Linked DNA regions of Homo sapiens: region 2 is linked to region 1. The links come from fine-mapping of genetic effects on gene expression. Tissue or cell type: fibroblasts. Region 1 holds a variant in brackets; the other region holds the start of a gene. All regions are shown on one strand. Distances are between the middles of the regions.

The links. PIP is the estimated chance that this variant, and not a neighbour inherited with it, causes the effect.
Region 2: CCDC71L starts here. The variant in region 1 is fine-mapped to the expression of CCDC71L in fibroblasts (GTEx, PIP above 0.99).

What each region holds. Positions count from the first base shown.
Region 1 is chr7:106,535,510-106,543,617 of GRCh38, reverse strand. No RefSeq gene overlaps it. Among named protein-coding and RNA genes, the nearest start is that of CTB-30L5.1, 59 kb to the left of the region's middle. The variant C/T (reference allele first, on the strand shown) is at 4,901.
Region 2 is chr7:106,657,320-106,665,427 of GRCh38, reverse strand. CCDC71L (coiled-coil domain containing 71 like) reads left to right here and starts at 4,270. Exons shown (of 1, transcript NM_175884.6): 1 at 4,270-8,108. The coding sequence starts at 4,532. The coding sequence ends at 5,239. RefSeq lists a silencer at 4,827-5,096 and an enhancer at 5,447-5,496.

The DNA.
Region 1 (8,108 bases):
TCTAAAACAAGTCTTTTCCCCGACTACTCTTTAAGGGAGAGTCCACCTTTTCCACCCTCAGCATACTCTAGTCCATCTCCTTGCTTGATTTTCTTCACTGAACTTTCACTATCTGGAATTTATTATCTGTTTGTTTCTTTATTTGTTGTTGTCCCACTAGATTGTGAGTGTGAGGAGGGCAGGGGCTTTGTCTATCTGGTTCATTGCTGTATCCCTGGGGCCTAGAACAGCACCTGGTCCTTGAAGAGCATTAGAGCCTTCACATTCCACGGCCCCTGGGGTATTCACTATGGATAGTGTTCCTCTGTGGAACATCATTCATGCAGGATAAATCAATGGTAAACAAATCTTCAGTGAATGTGTGCTGTCTGCTCAGCAATGTGCTATAACTGCTTGACTTGTGTTTTGAGCTCTAACATTTCAAAAAGTCTGCCAGAGCCTTGCATATCTCCCAGATTGGAAAGAATGAGAATTCCTTATGATCAGAAATCACAAGACTGAGAATACTAGTTTGTTTTTTTAGAAGAGTCTTACTTGCAGGAATAGTTTCAAAATAGTTGCCTCATAAACTTCTGAGCCCTGGAAGTCCTGACTATTTCTGCCTGGCTCTTGAAATTTGTTCTGGCACTGTCTGAAGCTCTTCTTCACTCCAGCTTTGGGCTTCTGGATGAAAGCTCCTGGTTTTTTTTTTTTTTTTTTTTTTTTTTTCCACTCACCACTGTGAACTACACACCCAAATCCCCAACCCCAGCATTTTTCTTTATTCTGTCTTTGGCAGTTGTTTTTGTATTCTGGTTTTAGTTTGATGTTTTCAGACTGTTTCCTGTTCTAGCCATGGGCTATCTCTGGCTGGCTTCAGTGTGTCTTGTAGAATTTGTGCCCCACCTCCCTCTAGCTGCTTGTTTTTTCCACATTCTCTGTCTCTGAGTAGGGATTTTCTTACGCCCTGTTCACATCTGCCCCCTCCTGGCAGGTATGATATTTAGTGGAGTGAACTTGACTCTAGTTCTTGATCAGTTTTGTGCTTAATTTAGTATTGACTCTAGGTCTTGATCAACGCATCCTTCTACATGTAATGGGCAACGTTTATTCAGTTCCTAGCTTTGACCAGCTAGATGAAGAATGTGGACAAAACACAGGAGAGTAGATAAGTCAGTGCTCATTACAGGGGGTGTGTGCCCCACAAGAGCTGCATAAGGTGGTCCATTGGGAAACTGGAAAGAAATGTTAGAAACTCTCTTTCTAATTTTATTTTTTAATTTCCATATTTGTGTATGATCAAAGCAACTTTATGGACAAAGATGTATGATCAATAGAGTTTGGAGACCACTGTTCTGGATAATAATTCTACTTATACTTTATAACCAATAATGACTCAGTCATTTACACACAGTGTGTACATTATGTAAAATAAATCATATTCACCCCCACATTGAATCATTTTTATTGCTGGTGTCTGGGCAGTCATGAAATTCTTCATGCCCCTCTTACATTATAAAGTTCTTACTAGGTACAGTTTAATAAACCTATGGCTAGGGGTGAGCAGTGAGGGAATACTATATCATACTGACTGTTTGATCTTTCCAGAAATACTATTCCTTGTGAAAGATTCATCCTATTTTAAATGTGAGCCTCTGCAAATCTTAAAATAGTTGAAATGCTTCCAAGTGAAATAATATGTCATATCACTGAATCAGTTAAAATATGCTTCGACTCAAAATATCTTTGATATTGTGTGTTTTAAACTTTATTGAAAATCACTTAACATTTATTAAGAACTTTTTGTTTTTCTTTTGTACTGGGTGGATAGTTGTCAACTTGGCATTATCCCTGCCTCTTGCCATGGAGCTTTTGGGTTTGATTCTGCTACTGAGAGGAATTTGCATGACATTTGGAAAGAGATAATAGAAGTCATCATTTATGGTTATGGACAAAAGTAGGGACAGTGGCAGACTCGAGGCAGCTTCTCTGTGAACTACTGCTTGGGTGCTGTAAGCAGCTGAGACCAGCAGTAGTGGTTTCCCTGATAATCCTGTTTCATAAATGAAACAACATTTTACTTTTATTTTTTATAAAATCCAGATTCTGCACAACTGACTTAACCTTTTAAACATATTAATTTGACCCCCAAATTAATCTATAATTTCATAGCAAATCCAACCAAAATTCAGGTAAAATTTTTCTTTTTCTGCGGGATTAGGGTGGGGAGAGGGTAGGGAACCTGATAAACTATTTCCAAAATATATAAAGTAGAATAAGGGTTCACATTAGGAAAAGCAACTATACCACATAAAAACATAAAATGGAAGATTCACACCACTAGATACTAAAATGTTTTACAAAGTCATAGACAAAAAAAATAATGTGGTACTTGCAGGTAGACAAAGCAGTGAAATAGAGAACTATATATGCACAGCAGATCCTCAGATAACATAATTTCATTCAACATCATTTAATTATAATGTTGATATGAAAAAAAATGGATTCCCAGCCAGGGAAACTCCACTGTGTGGAGTCTGCACGTTCTCCCAATGTCTGTGTGGGTTTTCTCCGGGTATTCCAGTTTCCTCCCACGTCCCAAAGATGTACATGTTATGTGAGTTGGTGTGTCTACACGATCCCAGTGTGAGTGAGTGTGGGATGGTGTCCTCTCCAGGGTGTGTTCCCGCTTCATGCTTTGAGCTGCTGGAATATGCCAGTTGCAATATAATAAATGAATGAATACAAATTATTGTCAAATAAAAATTCATAAAGTAGACAATAATCATACAAACGCATGACAGTAACTGATGTGGTAGGAAAGCGTTCAGTGGCTGGGTGTGGTGGCTCACGCCTGTAATCCCAGTACTTTGGGAAGCCAAGGCCAGCGGATCACCGGAGGTCAGGAGTTCGAGACCAGCCTGGCCAACATGGCAAAACCCTGTCTCTACTAAAAACACAAAAATTAGGCAGACATGGTGGCACGCACCTGTAATCCCAGTTACTCAGGAGGCTGAGGCAGGAGAATTGCTTGAACCTGGGAGGTGAAGGTTGCAGTGAGCTGGCCGAGATCGTATTACTACACTCCATCCTGGGGGATAGAGCGTAGAGCGAGACTCTGTCTCCAAAGAAAAGAAAAGAAAAAAGAAAAGAAAAGAAAAGAAGAAAGGAAAGGAAGGAAGAAAGAAAGGAGGAAGGAAGGAAGGAAAGAGAAGGAGCTCAGTGAGCCACTGGATTTGATTGCTTTGTTTTGTTTTTTTAAGATAGAGTCTCACTCTGTCACCCATTGCATTGCTGGAGTGCAATGGCGTGATCTCAGCTCACTGCAACCTCCACCTCCCAGGTTCAAGAAATTCTCCTGCCTCAGCCTCCCAAGTAGCTGGGATTACAGGCACCTGACACCACACACGGCTAATTTTTTGTATTTTTGGTAGATACGGGGTTTTGCCATGTTGGCCAGGCTGGTCTTGAACTCCTGACCCTGAGGTCACCTGAGTGATCCATCTGCCTTGGCCTCTTAAGTGCTGGGATTATAGGCATGAGCCACCATGCCTGGCCTTGGAGTTGATTGTTTTTGAACTGCATGGGGGCAGGAGGTGCTTCTGACCATTTTTTCTTTGCAAACATTTATTCCTTAACTCACTACCACAACCATTGTCACTCACTAGAAATTGGATAAATAATTATCTTGTTTTTATTAATCTTTCTTAAATGTATGTATAGCTCAGATTTATTTTAGTGTTTAATATTGCAAGTGTTTTGGTCTTTATTTAGAAGTTTCATAATGTTTTTGTGACCAGAAATACGCCAAAGGAGCTTAACTCTTGTTTATATCAATTAGTCTGTGGCAAAATTGGTTTCCTCATATGTTTTTTCACTTAAAGTCAGAGTTTCCAAGAACCTGTCAATAATGTTAAGTGAGGACTTACTGATATGCATATATGTGTGTCTGTATATCTATATATATATGAACTTGGTATAGGCTAGTGGAGGCATCCCAAAATAGTGGGGAAAAGATAGGGTCTCATATGACATATAAAAATCATCTCCAATGGATTAAGTAACTAAATGGGAAGGAGTGAAATGATAGAGCTAACACAAAGGAAAAAAAAGCTAGGAGAACATTTGTGGTCTCTGAATGAGGAGGGTTTTCTTTTAAAAATCTAAAAAGCAGAAAATTTGTATCAAATCCAAGATTTAAGGTCATTAAGATGATGGTCATTATAGAGTTAGCAGGTAAGTGACAGTCTGGGAGAAGTTTTTTGTTTTTGTTTTTTTTTTTTTTTTTTGACATTATCCCCAAGTGCCAATGGATTATCAGCGAAGGAATTTCTAAAAGAGCAAGAAGAACCAGAAAAATGGTCAAAGTTTACAAATAGGCCAGTCTCAGAAGGGGAAACCCAAATGGCAGAAATATGGAGAATTGTACAATTTTCACCAGCAATCAGAGAAAGGCAAATTAAAGCAGGGAATCATCACCTTAAACGCATCATAGTGGTGATTATTAGATAGTTAAAGGCAAGGATTGCATTTAGAGGTGAAAAAGTGATATCCCTTTTTCTAAAAAGACACAGAGTTCACAGAGAAATGGGAACCCTTGGGCACTGCTGGTAAATTATAAAAAGCACACCCATCTGGGGAAGCCTTCAAACAGAGCTTCCCCCAGGTCCGCAAAGGGAACTGTGTGAGAATGTTCATGACAGTGTGCTTATGGCTACAGGGGACTGGAAGCCACCCAAGTGTCCACCGAATAGTAAATACGTAATATATGGCAGATGCATCCTGTGGGACATTGAGCTGTAGTTAAAAGCAATGAGATAAATGCATGCACGGGAACATGAATAAACTTAAAAACATCCTGGTAGATGAAAAATGTAAGAAACAGGATATGATTTGGCACCATACAATCCTAGAATCAGAA[C/T]GACACATTCTTTAATATGTGCCCTGTATGGAAATTTTAAAAACAGAATTCATTCAAATTTCTGAGTAAATTGTAGCTGATTGCCTGCTTTTCTCAAAAAATTAAGAATATATTTTATTGTCTGCGTGTGTCTTTGCTGCTGAGTTTAAAACTTGAAGTGCACCCACAGTTCTTGGTGTTGTGCCTAACATAGAGCAGGCCTTTAGTAATAGTTACTACGATGAGCTGTTCCTACCCTAAATTATCACCTTATAACATTTAGATGTGAAAAAGTGACATGTCTCATTCTAGAAAGACACAGAACTGGTAACTATCATATTGCTCCCACATTTGTTCCTGAAAGTAACCAGAAATGATTTATGAGATTAAGTAAGGATAGTTGAAGGATAGTTTTTATTTGTGTTGAGTTGTTAATTCTTCAGCTCAGGAGCTGGCAAACCATGGACAACAGGCCAAATCCAGTCATTGCCTATTTTTATATGGCTAGGAGTTAAGAATGGTTTTCACATTTTTAATAGTTGTTATATAAGTACCTAAGTAACATCCTCAATTTTGCCTCTTGGCCTTTAAAGCCTGAAGTATTTGCTATCTGACCCTTTACAGAAATGTTTACCAATCCTTGCTGTAGTATATTTATTTACTGAACAAATAATTACTGAGACCAATGGTATACCAGGCACTGTGCTAAGTGGGGACAGAGCAGTGAAAACAAGAGGCCAACTCTCTTCTTTTATGGTACTTAAATTCTTGTAAAGGAGACAAATAATCAAGGTAAAAAAATATAGCATGACAGAAAAGTGCTATGAAGAGTAATAAAGCAAAGGGGAACAGAACGGTTGAATGAGGTGTTTTCAAAAAAACATGGCTTTTCTTTAGAAAACATTGCAACATGTAAACTTTAAGTAAATGTCTTATTTGTTAGTATAAGTCAAGTATAGTCATGCAGCATTTAACAAAGGGGGGTATGTTCTGAGAAACGCATCGCTAGGGGATTTTGTCATTGTGCGACATCATAGAGTGTACTGTACTTACACAAACCTAGATTGTACAGCCTACCGCACATCTAGGCTGTATAGTATATAGCCTATGGCCCCTGGGCTACAAACCTATACAGCGTGCTACTGTACTGAGTACTGTAGGCAATTGTAACACAATGGTAAGTATTTGTGTGTCTACATATGTTTAGACATAGGAAAAGTATAGTAAAATACAGTATTATAATCATATGAGACCACCACCATATATGCAGTTTGTCCTTGAAGGAAACTTCATTATGAGATGCATGACTATAATTTGTTTTCTGGTCTTTTGGTTGGTGTTCACACTTGTTCTTTCGTTCCTTAGACTCCACTAGAATCGATGTATAAATACTCACTTATCTCTATGTCCTGTCTTGGCCTTTGCCACATCCTGTTTTTATTACAAAACTTCCTTTTGTCAATCAATCTCTATTTTCCTCTTCTATGTCCAGATAAACATTGATTATGCTAACTTGCTATTCATCCTTGAACTGCTTTTGGTGAATCTATCTTGCCTTCATCAGCCTCCCTTAAAAATGTTAAACACCTTTACTTTTATTACAAAAGCAAAATATAGCAGGGAAGCTAACTATACAAAATATGATAAACTTCAATTAATATTTTGGAATTTAACCTTAGAAGTAATGTTTTATCATTCGATTCATCACACACAGATTCATACTTCAGACACTTTATAACATGTCTTTTTTCTCTTAATGTATGTTATGGATATCTTTTCAAAATAATAAAAGACCTCTATTACATTTTTTTGACTGCTGCATGATAGGAATTGCATTCAACTGTGATGTGAAGCAAATGTGATTAAAGTAACTTGAGTATGTAAGAAGTGTTTTTTGTCTTTTATTTTTGTCTTCTTTCTTCATACAACAGTGGATCTGGAGGTAGGCAACTGCTGGCATTAGTTCAGAAGGTGTCAAGACAAGTTATTTGTACAATTCTTGGCCTTTTCTCCCTAAAGTCAAAGTAGCTGCCACGGTTCCATCCATTTTATCCACAGTCTAGGTAGGAGAAAGGGGAATGGAAGCTGTATTGCTTTCCTGTTGCTGCTTATTATCTACAGTTCTAGAGTTAAGAAGTCTAAACTCAGTTTCACTGTGGTAAAATCAAGGTATTGGTAGTGCTGTGTTCATTTTGGAGGCTCTCAAGAGAATCTATTTCATTTTTTTCTAGTTTCTAGGGGCTGTCCACATTCCTTGGCTCATGGCCCCTCCCTCCATCTTCACACCATCAGTGCAGCCTCTTCAAATCTCTCTGACTACTCTCTACTACTCCCTGCCTCTGTTCTAACATTTCCTTCCCCGATCATAACCTTCTTGCATCCCTCTTACGTGGATTCTTCTGATTGTATAGGATCGTCCAGGATAATCTCCCCATCTCAAGAGTCTTGGTCACATGTGCAAAGTCTCTTTTGCCATGTGAGATAACATATTCACAGGTTCCAGGGATTGAGATATGGATATTTAGAGGTGGAAGGGTCATTGTTCTACCTACAACAAAAACCAGCTAGAACAGGGTAGTATTTCTATCAAGAAAATGAAAATTTCCAGAAATTGCCATTGGACTTGGGTTGATATCTCTTTGCTCAAAGCTGTATCATGTATCATTCTTCAGTGACACCTTTAACTGACTCCAGGAGGAAGCTCTGGAACTAAAATAGCCTGCTAGAATTGTCGTGTATGGGGTCAGATAACCTGGTCATTTTATGCCAGTGTGATCAGTCACTGGAAGTGGGCTAACCTAAGAAGGGTGTGACCTTGGGCGAGGTGGTGCTCTACAACTCGAGCACATCCTGCATGGCTAGCAGCTTGGGGCTGTCTGCAGACAGCACTCCCAGTCATGGGGCAATAAATCTTCCCCTGAATGGGGTACCTGGAGGGCACATCACAGTGTTCACTACAGTCATGGTTTAAAACGCTGAGGTAGATCTCTGTGTATCACTAGGGGGGAAATGTCCACATGTAGCATGACATAAATAAAGCAGTAATAAATGTCAGAGAGGCTTTACAACAGTAATGAGTTGATGATCACAGGACCCAGGAATGCTCTACTACCCTCTTAGCCTTGCCAACTCAGTCTCTTTTTGAAGTTCATGAAGGAGTGAGAACCTTAAGGAACAAAAGCAAGTCTTACGTAAGAGGCCACTTTTTATCATCTGCTTCTGATCAGTT
Region 2 (8,108 bases), 120 kb before region 1:
TTTTCTGACACTGTCCTAATGGGGGTGGGGTGGGCACTGCCTCAATACTGCCAAGTCAGAGTCCAGATTTCTCCTCTGTTTCCACTGATACCTGAAATGGGGAAAGGAGCCCCTCATTACTGCTGAATGGGGGTAGGAATTCTGGCTTCTCACTAGGGCCGAGAAGGTGGGTAGGATTGTCTTGTTATATTCACCACATGGTCTCCACTGACACCATGGGTACAGATTGCCTGTTTACTGCCCAACAAGGATTAAAGTCCTGATTTCTTATCCAGCCTCCTCTCATACCACCCTAGCAGAGGTGGTGGGGGTGCCTTTTTATAGCCTGGCAAGGGTAGAAGTCATAATTTTTTTCTATGGTGTTTTGCAGCAGTAGGAAAATTATTTTCTAAAAGCTTTCCGTTTTGTTAGGCTGCCCCTCCTTTCCCGGTCCTGTAGCTAGAGAGAAGAAGATTTTGTTGGGGCTTTTTATGTTTGCATCTGTTGGCATTTTGGGGTTGTTGGCTTGTCTAGCACCCAGTCTCAGATTTGCTAGAAAAAGAGAAAAGAAGAAGAAAGGAGACCCAGGGAACTCACTGCCATGCCCTTCTTTGGGTTCTCTGAGGTCTCCAGCCTGTCTGCCTTCTCTTCTCCATTTTTCAGAGTCTTCTTATGTATACTTTATATATAACATCCAAGGTTTTTAGTTGCAATTAGCGGGAAAAATAGGGAAAGTACAGGTATTCCTATAAGCAAAAGAAAGTCCTATCCTCTCAGTTTATATGGTCTTTATGTTTTTCACATTAAGCCGTTGCAGAGCATATCAGGGTTTGAGCTAACTTTTGTATAAAAATCTAAATTACTTTTAGAATAGGTCTAATGACAAGGCTGAGTTTTTTCTTGCTGAATCATGCTATATTTAACATCATTTAAGCCAGCAATTAATGCTATCTCCTTGGTTAAGTACAAAATGTAGAATGTTAGAAACAATTCTGAACTAGAGTTAGAGATCTACGTTCTAGCTCAGAATCTTCCACTGTACAGCTCTGTGACCTTAGGCAGATCTCTTGGCATCTCAGAATTCTCATCTGAATTAACAATGTTGGACTCATTAGATGATCTCTAAGTTTCTTCTAGCTGTAAAGTTTTTATTTTCCTCTCATCAATGCCACTACTTTAAAAAAATATGTAGACATTCTGTAATACAGGGCTTAAAATATATTGATTAAACCAAGTAAAATCCTCAAAAATAAATAAGACAAATAGGAATAGCTTTTATTGAATGCTGTGTTCCAGGCACTACAGTAAGTGTTTTATGAATATTCTCTCGTCCAGTTCTTAAAACTTTGAAGTTAGAAGTTATACTCATTTTATAGATGAGAATGCTGAGACTCAGAAAGGTGAAAAATGTGTCTAAGAATATTTTTTTGTAAAGATATAATTGACCCCAAGTTTATTTGATTCCAGAGCTGATGTTTGCAACCACTTATATAGATTTTCAAAATTTTTTTGGCCACTTTTCAAGAGGCAGATTATTTTATAGAAATTGGATTCTAAAGCAATACTTCTGGGTAGCTAAAAGATACATTTTATTTAATTTTTCCCATCACTTTATTCGGCTTGGATTTATTTTTTAACTACATAAATATTGAATACAGAAAGTAAATACATACAGCTTTTTTTTGTTTATTATTATTCATCACTTATTTAGCAGACATAGGAGGCATTATTACCCTTGAGAGGTAAAGGAATAAACTAAGGGTTGTAAAATATCGTTACTCAAGAGCAAAAATTTAATTTGCCAACTTTCCATAAACTTCATAGTATCTCAAGTCTCAGGAACTAGAAGAGATACATTATTTCTATGTGTAAATTTTGCTTATTTATGGAGAACAGATAAGGAACCATTTGCAAGACTATTAGAGTTAATTAAAAGGTGGAGGTCAAGAAAAAATTAAAAATAATAGAGGAAACAGAATAGAGCAAATAATGTCAAATTTAAATGTATACGATAACATAAGCACTTTATCATGATATTAGTTCCTAAAAGTATTTCATAAAAAATATTGTTTGGTTTTAAGTAAATTAAATGAGCATGCATTATAAAATGAACTCTTGAATACTTGGCAAGTTGAGATCTTATGTTTTCTTAGAACCAAAATTGTGTTTAAAAAAGGTTTATCTTCTTAATTGAAATAAGTTCTATACATTTATGTAAATGTCTGGAATATATTTATGTGGTAAAGACCCTGAAGAATTTATAAAATGATGATTATCAAGGAAGGGAGGGGATTCCAATATGAAAAGCCAGGTCTACTTTAATCCTTGTTTTATCCTTGCTTTTCATTATGAAGCCCCCCTAACTTTCTCATGGCTCACTCTAGATTTTGGGTATTCCAATGGAAATTATTCAAATTTCACTTTACTATGTGTCTCAGAATTACGGAAAGAGCAAATTGTGATGTAAAGAGTTGTTGCTATATCATTCCTTTATAAGGATTTAGGAAGCTGGTATTTGGCTCTGTAATCTTGTTCTGAGATCAGAGTGTGCTTTTCTAGGAAAATGATTTTCTATTCAGAAAGTTACCATGATTTTGCTAGAGAGCTGGTTCCTGGTTAGATGTTTTATTTTTGCCATAAGCCCATTGTGTGGAGTTTTATTTTTGCCATAAACTCATTGTGTGGTGAGAGCTTTCAAGAATTTGACATCTCTGGTGTAGAGCTTTCAAATTATTTATTTTAGGTTTTATTGAAACTGAACAAACAAAATATTATTCATAAATCTATTATAAGACAGAGAAAAACTGCTCAATTCTGGGTGGGGTGGAAGTAGGAATAGGGGTACAGCTCTGTCCTTCGTCATTCTACTTATGCATAAAGCATGTTCTATTGAATTCCTTAGAGTCTGGACAGCACAGTTTGAAAAACCTTCAGTGAAATACAAAGATCACTAGATTAGAAATCGAAGGATTTAGAATCCCAGTTCTGCTATCAGCCAGCTGTGTTACTGAACCTCTATGGTACAGATTTCCTCACCTGTTAAATAAGGAGAATGAACTAGGTCTCTTTCAGGTCAAATATTTGAGGAAACCATTAGCAACTACATGTAAATCACAAAACTCCTATACTTTATTTGTTCACTACTGCAAAATAAGATGTTTCCTGGGTAAAATCCACATGCCCACCTCAAAGTTCTAAGTGTCAGGAGATTTTTTCTTTTAACCTTAAGAAATTTAAAGGAGTTCTGTGAAAATTGCAATATAAAATATCTAATTGTCCTGTTCTAAGCAGTTTCAACATTTCTGACTCTATTTGGGATAATCGGTGGTATTTCATTGATTCATTCGGCAAACACATTGAGTGTCCACTACCTGACAGGAACTGAGTTAGGTATAGAGGACAGAAAAGATGACTAAAGGATGTCCACTACTCTCCTCCCAATACAAAAGGTAATGTGTTTTGAACAATTTGTGTTTTTCAACGAAACCTTATCTGTTGTCTGCGATGATGCATCCTTTCTAAATGATAGGGGTGGCTTTGACATTTTAAAACTAAATGAAAAACGAATTGGCATCCATAAAGAACTGTGTATTTAAAACTATATTTTCTTTTCACAGAATGGCTTTATTGTAATAGATCTTTGATCAACTTGAGCAAAGAGTATTTAGTTTTATAGGGTATGACATGTTTTGCTTTCTGGATAAGCAGGGTCTCTCTTAAATATGAAGATGGCTCCAGTGTCCAGAGGGAGACTAAAATCTCTCAGCTGCCAGCCACGCACATTACCTGAATGATTCTGGATTACTACTGGCTTCTTGAGATGGGCTGGGGTCAAGACAGGGAAGAGTTTTGAATGAAGATGCCAGAAGAGGCCTTTGAGAGGGTGGATGGGAATTGCGAAAGGCCCATTTCCCCTAGACTTAAACCCAAATTCCCTAGCTGTGATGATACCAGGAACATCCTTCAGGGAAATCTCCCTTTGTTATCCACACTGGTAGAGCTCCCAGCTCAATCCACAACTGCACACCCCCTCACTCTAAGAGTCACTCTTCCCATGGTGTAGCCAACATCCACCCTCTTACTCTAGACGTGGCAGCCCTCCTAGATCCACCCAACCGTTGACTTACGTTCAAAGGCCATCACCCACCCCAGCACCATCTTCCAGGAACTGGCCTCTCCCCCATCAGTCCCCGCCCCTCTTCTGAGAGCACCCAATGGGTGGAGTCGGGGCTGCGGTGGGAGGGGCCTGAGGCGGGCACATTTAAAGAAAGGCAGCCGGCGAAAAGAGGCAAGAGAGGAGAAGAAAGAGAAACCAGGGGGGCGAGGCGCCGTCCAATGACAAAGCCCAGGGGTGGGCGCCGGCCGCCATCTTGTACCGGGCAGCAGGATATTCGCCCGCGTCCTCCGCCCTCGGAGGGGGAGGGGCGGCGGCGGAGGCGAGAAAAGTAGCGAGAGACGCCAGCAGCAGCCGCCGCCGCGGAGCCAACGCGGACTGGGACGGCGGCGGCAGTAGTGGGACCCGGCGAGCGTGAGTGGCCCGGAGCGGCCTTCGATGCGGCGCAGTATGAAGAGGCGGCGGCGCCGGCGCCCGGTCGCCCCGGCCACGGCCGCCCGGGGCGGCGACTTTAGGGCAGAAGACGGGGCTGGGTTGGAGGCGCGGGAGGAGAAGGTGGTGTACTCGCGGTCGCAACTGTCGCTGGCTGACAGCACCAAGGCGCTGGGCGACGCCTTCAAGCTCTTCATGCCCCGCAGCACGGAGTTCATGAGCTCGGACGCGGAGCTCTGGAGCTTCCTCTGCAGCCTCAAGCACCAGTTCTCCCCGCACATCCTGCGCAGCAAGGACGTCTACGGCTACTCCTCCTGCCGGGCCCTGGTACCCGACCCCCCGGGGCCCCCTACAGCCCGCGGCCAGGCGCGCCGGCCGGTTCCGCGCGCAGCGGCCAGGAGGAGGCGCCGCGGAGCCCGGGCGGCCGCTGCCCGCAGGAGGAAGCCCCGGCCGCCACCCCCACCGCCGCCGCCCCCCGAGGAGAGCTGCCCGGCCAAGCCCGTGGCCCCCGGGCCCTGCTTCGGGGGCCGCACCTTGGAGGAGATCTGGAGGGCGGCCACCCCGACGCTGACCACCTTCCCCACCATCCGCGTCGGCAGCGACGTGTGGGGCGAGCGCAGCCTGGCGGCAGCGCGGCGCAGGGCGCGCCAGGTCCTGCGAGTGAACCTGGAACCCATGGTGAGGCTCCGCCGCTTCCCGGTGCCCCGGGCATGAGGTGCGGCCTCCAGGGCGCCTCCTGCCGGCCCCGACCTTGGGACAGGCCTTCCGCCCGGAGGAATGAACAAGTGTCAGTCGAGTGTTTACAGATCCGGCCAGGACCCCGGCCCCCAATGCACTTTACGCGCGAAGAAGTTGCCGGATGGTTGTCCCTGTCCCGGGCCGCGGCGCGGTCGTCTTGGACGCTGGGGCAGGTGTGCCCTCTGCTGCCTCCCGTACCCGGCCTGCGGAGGGAGGGGACAGCTGGACCCGCAGGGGAGGTCCCTTTCTTCCTGACCACCGATTGAGACGTCTCCAGGACCTTAGGGGCAGATCCGTTTTCTCACTGTTGGACTCTACCTCACTGGTCTGGAAGTCCTCCGAAGACATTATTTTTCCAAAGGAATTTGGTTTCGTGCTTGTGTAATAAAGCCAGAATTTACTTGTTCTTTATCTCCCCCTTTTTCTATTTCACTGTCACCCCTCTTTGTGGACAGAAGTTCGAACATGTGGTGTTGCACTAGTTTGTGCTCAGGGTATTCTGAAGCCCACTCGTTTCCTAATTTTTACTGGATTCCAAAGCTTTGATCGAGGATATTTTTTAAGAGGTTCAAGCTTGTGACTGTTAGTAGTGCAAGGATTTGTATGGGCTCAGTGATTACAAACAAAGACATGCAAAATACAACTGTTTAAACATTTTCAAGGTATTTTTAAAGGTTTTGTATTGAAACAATGTTTATATTTACTGAGCTCCTAAAAATGGTAGAATACACATGAAAACTTTTGTTTAGGAAAAGTTAACTTGTTAAATTCTTTTGAATTGAATAAAAAAATGCATTGAAACCATATGGTGTGTGATTAAAAAAAATGAATAAATTGTGAAGAACTGGTTTTGGTTACAGGAGTCACTGGAATCCGACTGGAGATGATTTGGCCCCCTGTCCTGGTCTAACATACAAATCTAGGAATATTATGCGTTAAAGTATTTTAAAATACATTATCCTTGTAATGTATTTTACAAGGATAATGTATTTTAAAATGGGAGTTGCATAGGAGAGATGGATGTGTGTAAACATTATCACTAAAATGATAAACAGAATACCCATTAGAATTCTTAGAACTATTAATGATCAAGAGGGGTGGAGGCATTTCTTGGTATCAAATAACTGGTTAAGGTTACTTTGGGCGAAATCTATTTCCTTTTTGTTTTTGTTGTTGGATAACAAGAAATGTCTAGACTAATATTCATCAGTTTTACAAACATAATGAAAATTAGTTGATTTTTAGTTGATTTTTTTGTCCCAACATTTTTTTTAACCTTTTTGCCACTCATTATATGTTTGCAGTTCTAGGTCTTTGACAGCTGAAGACCACAGGAATCAAACAGGCGAGACACACAGAATACTGACCCTTCTTTACGCTTTTATAGTGTTTATACCATATGGCCCAGTGTGGAATTCTTGATTATCCAAGTGCCTTTGGTCATTTGTGGCAGGAAAACTTAATAGTTTTTAGCCAGCAGTGCCACAGCCAGCTTTTACTGCAATACCTAAAGGGTCAAGTAGTGTTTTTGTACCACTATTATTTCAAATTTAAGTATTCTGCCATGAAACGATCCATACTGGGCTGGAACTTGACATGTGAAATCTTTAATACTAAAGCTTATCTCTGCTTGGCAGCTTTTTAGGAGAATAATGAGAGTTACAATTTTGACTCTTGCGTTCCTAGAATTCAAATGGCATAGCTTTCTGAAATGAGTATTTCAAGTTTAGTAGTCCGTATAGGAGTGTTGTGACTTCAATTTCAGTGTTCTTGTTAAAAGAAATAATATGATATATATATACACACATATATATAACTTGATGCCAGTTTTCTAGTAAGCCTCAGTCTTTTATTCACTACTCAATGATAATGCATTGTACAAACACTGTCACATGAGTAAATAAAAATGAATAATTCCTTAGAAGATGGAGAGTGTTAAATTATATTTGTGATAGGAAGCTTAGACATATCTTTTGGTTATTAGCTTCCATTGCCAATTGTATTTCAGATGCATAGGGTTTTCTTCCCAAAAATATATTGTTAACTTTTATAGCTAACTAGCACCTGGAAAAAATGTATTTGTACAACTTTACTATTGTATATAGTTTTATAATAATGAAAAATAAACCCAATGGCCATATTAGAATGCAATTTCGACATACAGCTTATCTAGATAGTTTTCCAGAGGATTTTGAAATTTGGCTTAACTGGGAGGATAACTGCTCAGCACACCACTGAAACATAACCACTGACACCATTCATTTATTTTAACTGAGATTCTTGACATTTTTCTCTCCTATGCCTTGTTACTTTAGCATACTTGAACTCACATAAATGCTTCTTTGGATTACATGGGCTATCTGATTCCATTTTGGATCTGATTGTCCATCTTGAATTCAATATGGTATTCATCTGGACTATTCAAAAATTATGCCATTTCTAGTCTGTGAAATAAGATGTAAAAAATCTTTATTTTTGCCCTTTGGTAAAAACCTATGTGACAACTTTTAAAATGTGAAGCAACATCTAATATAGTTGACTGGTATACTAATAGGAAAGTGAAAGTATTTCATGGGTACTTTGTCACAGAATGTGAAAAGAAACTTGGCATAGTGGCCTTTATAATGAGGCATCCACTTACTCCTCTGAAGTGAAGTCTGTAGCTTAGCTTGTGTATAGTTTTTGAAAGAAATCTCATGATCTTCGTTCATTCTCTTGCCTTCTCTTTTATCTCATATGGCACAAGTAGAGGGGGAAGCCAGGAGGAAATTCATCACCTCGCTATGCTTTTATTTGATTTTTAATTCCTGAGTGCCTAAATGTGGTGACCGGCACCTCACATAAC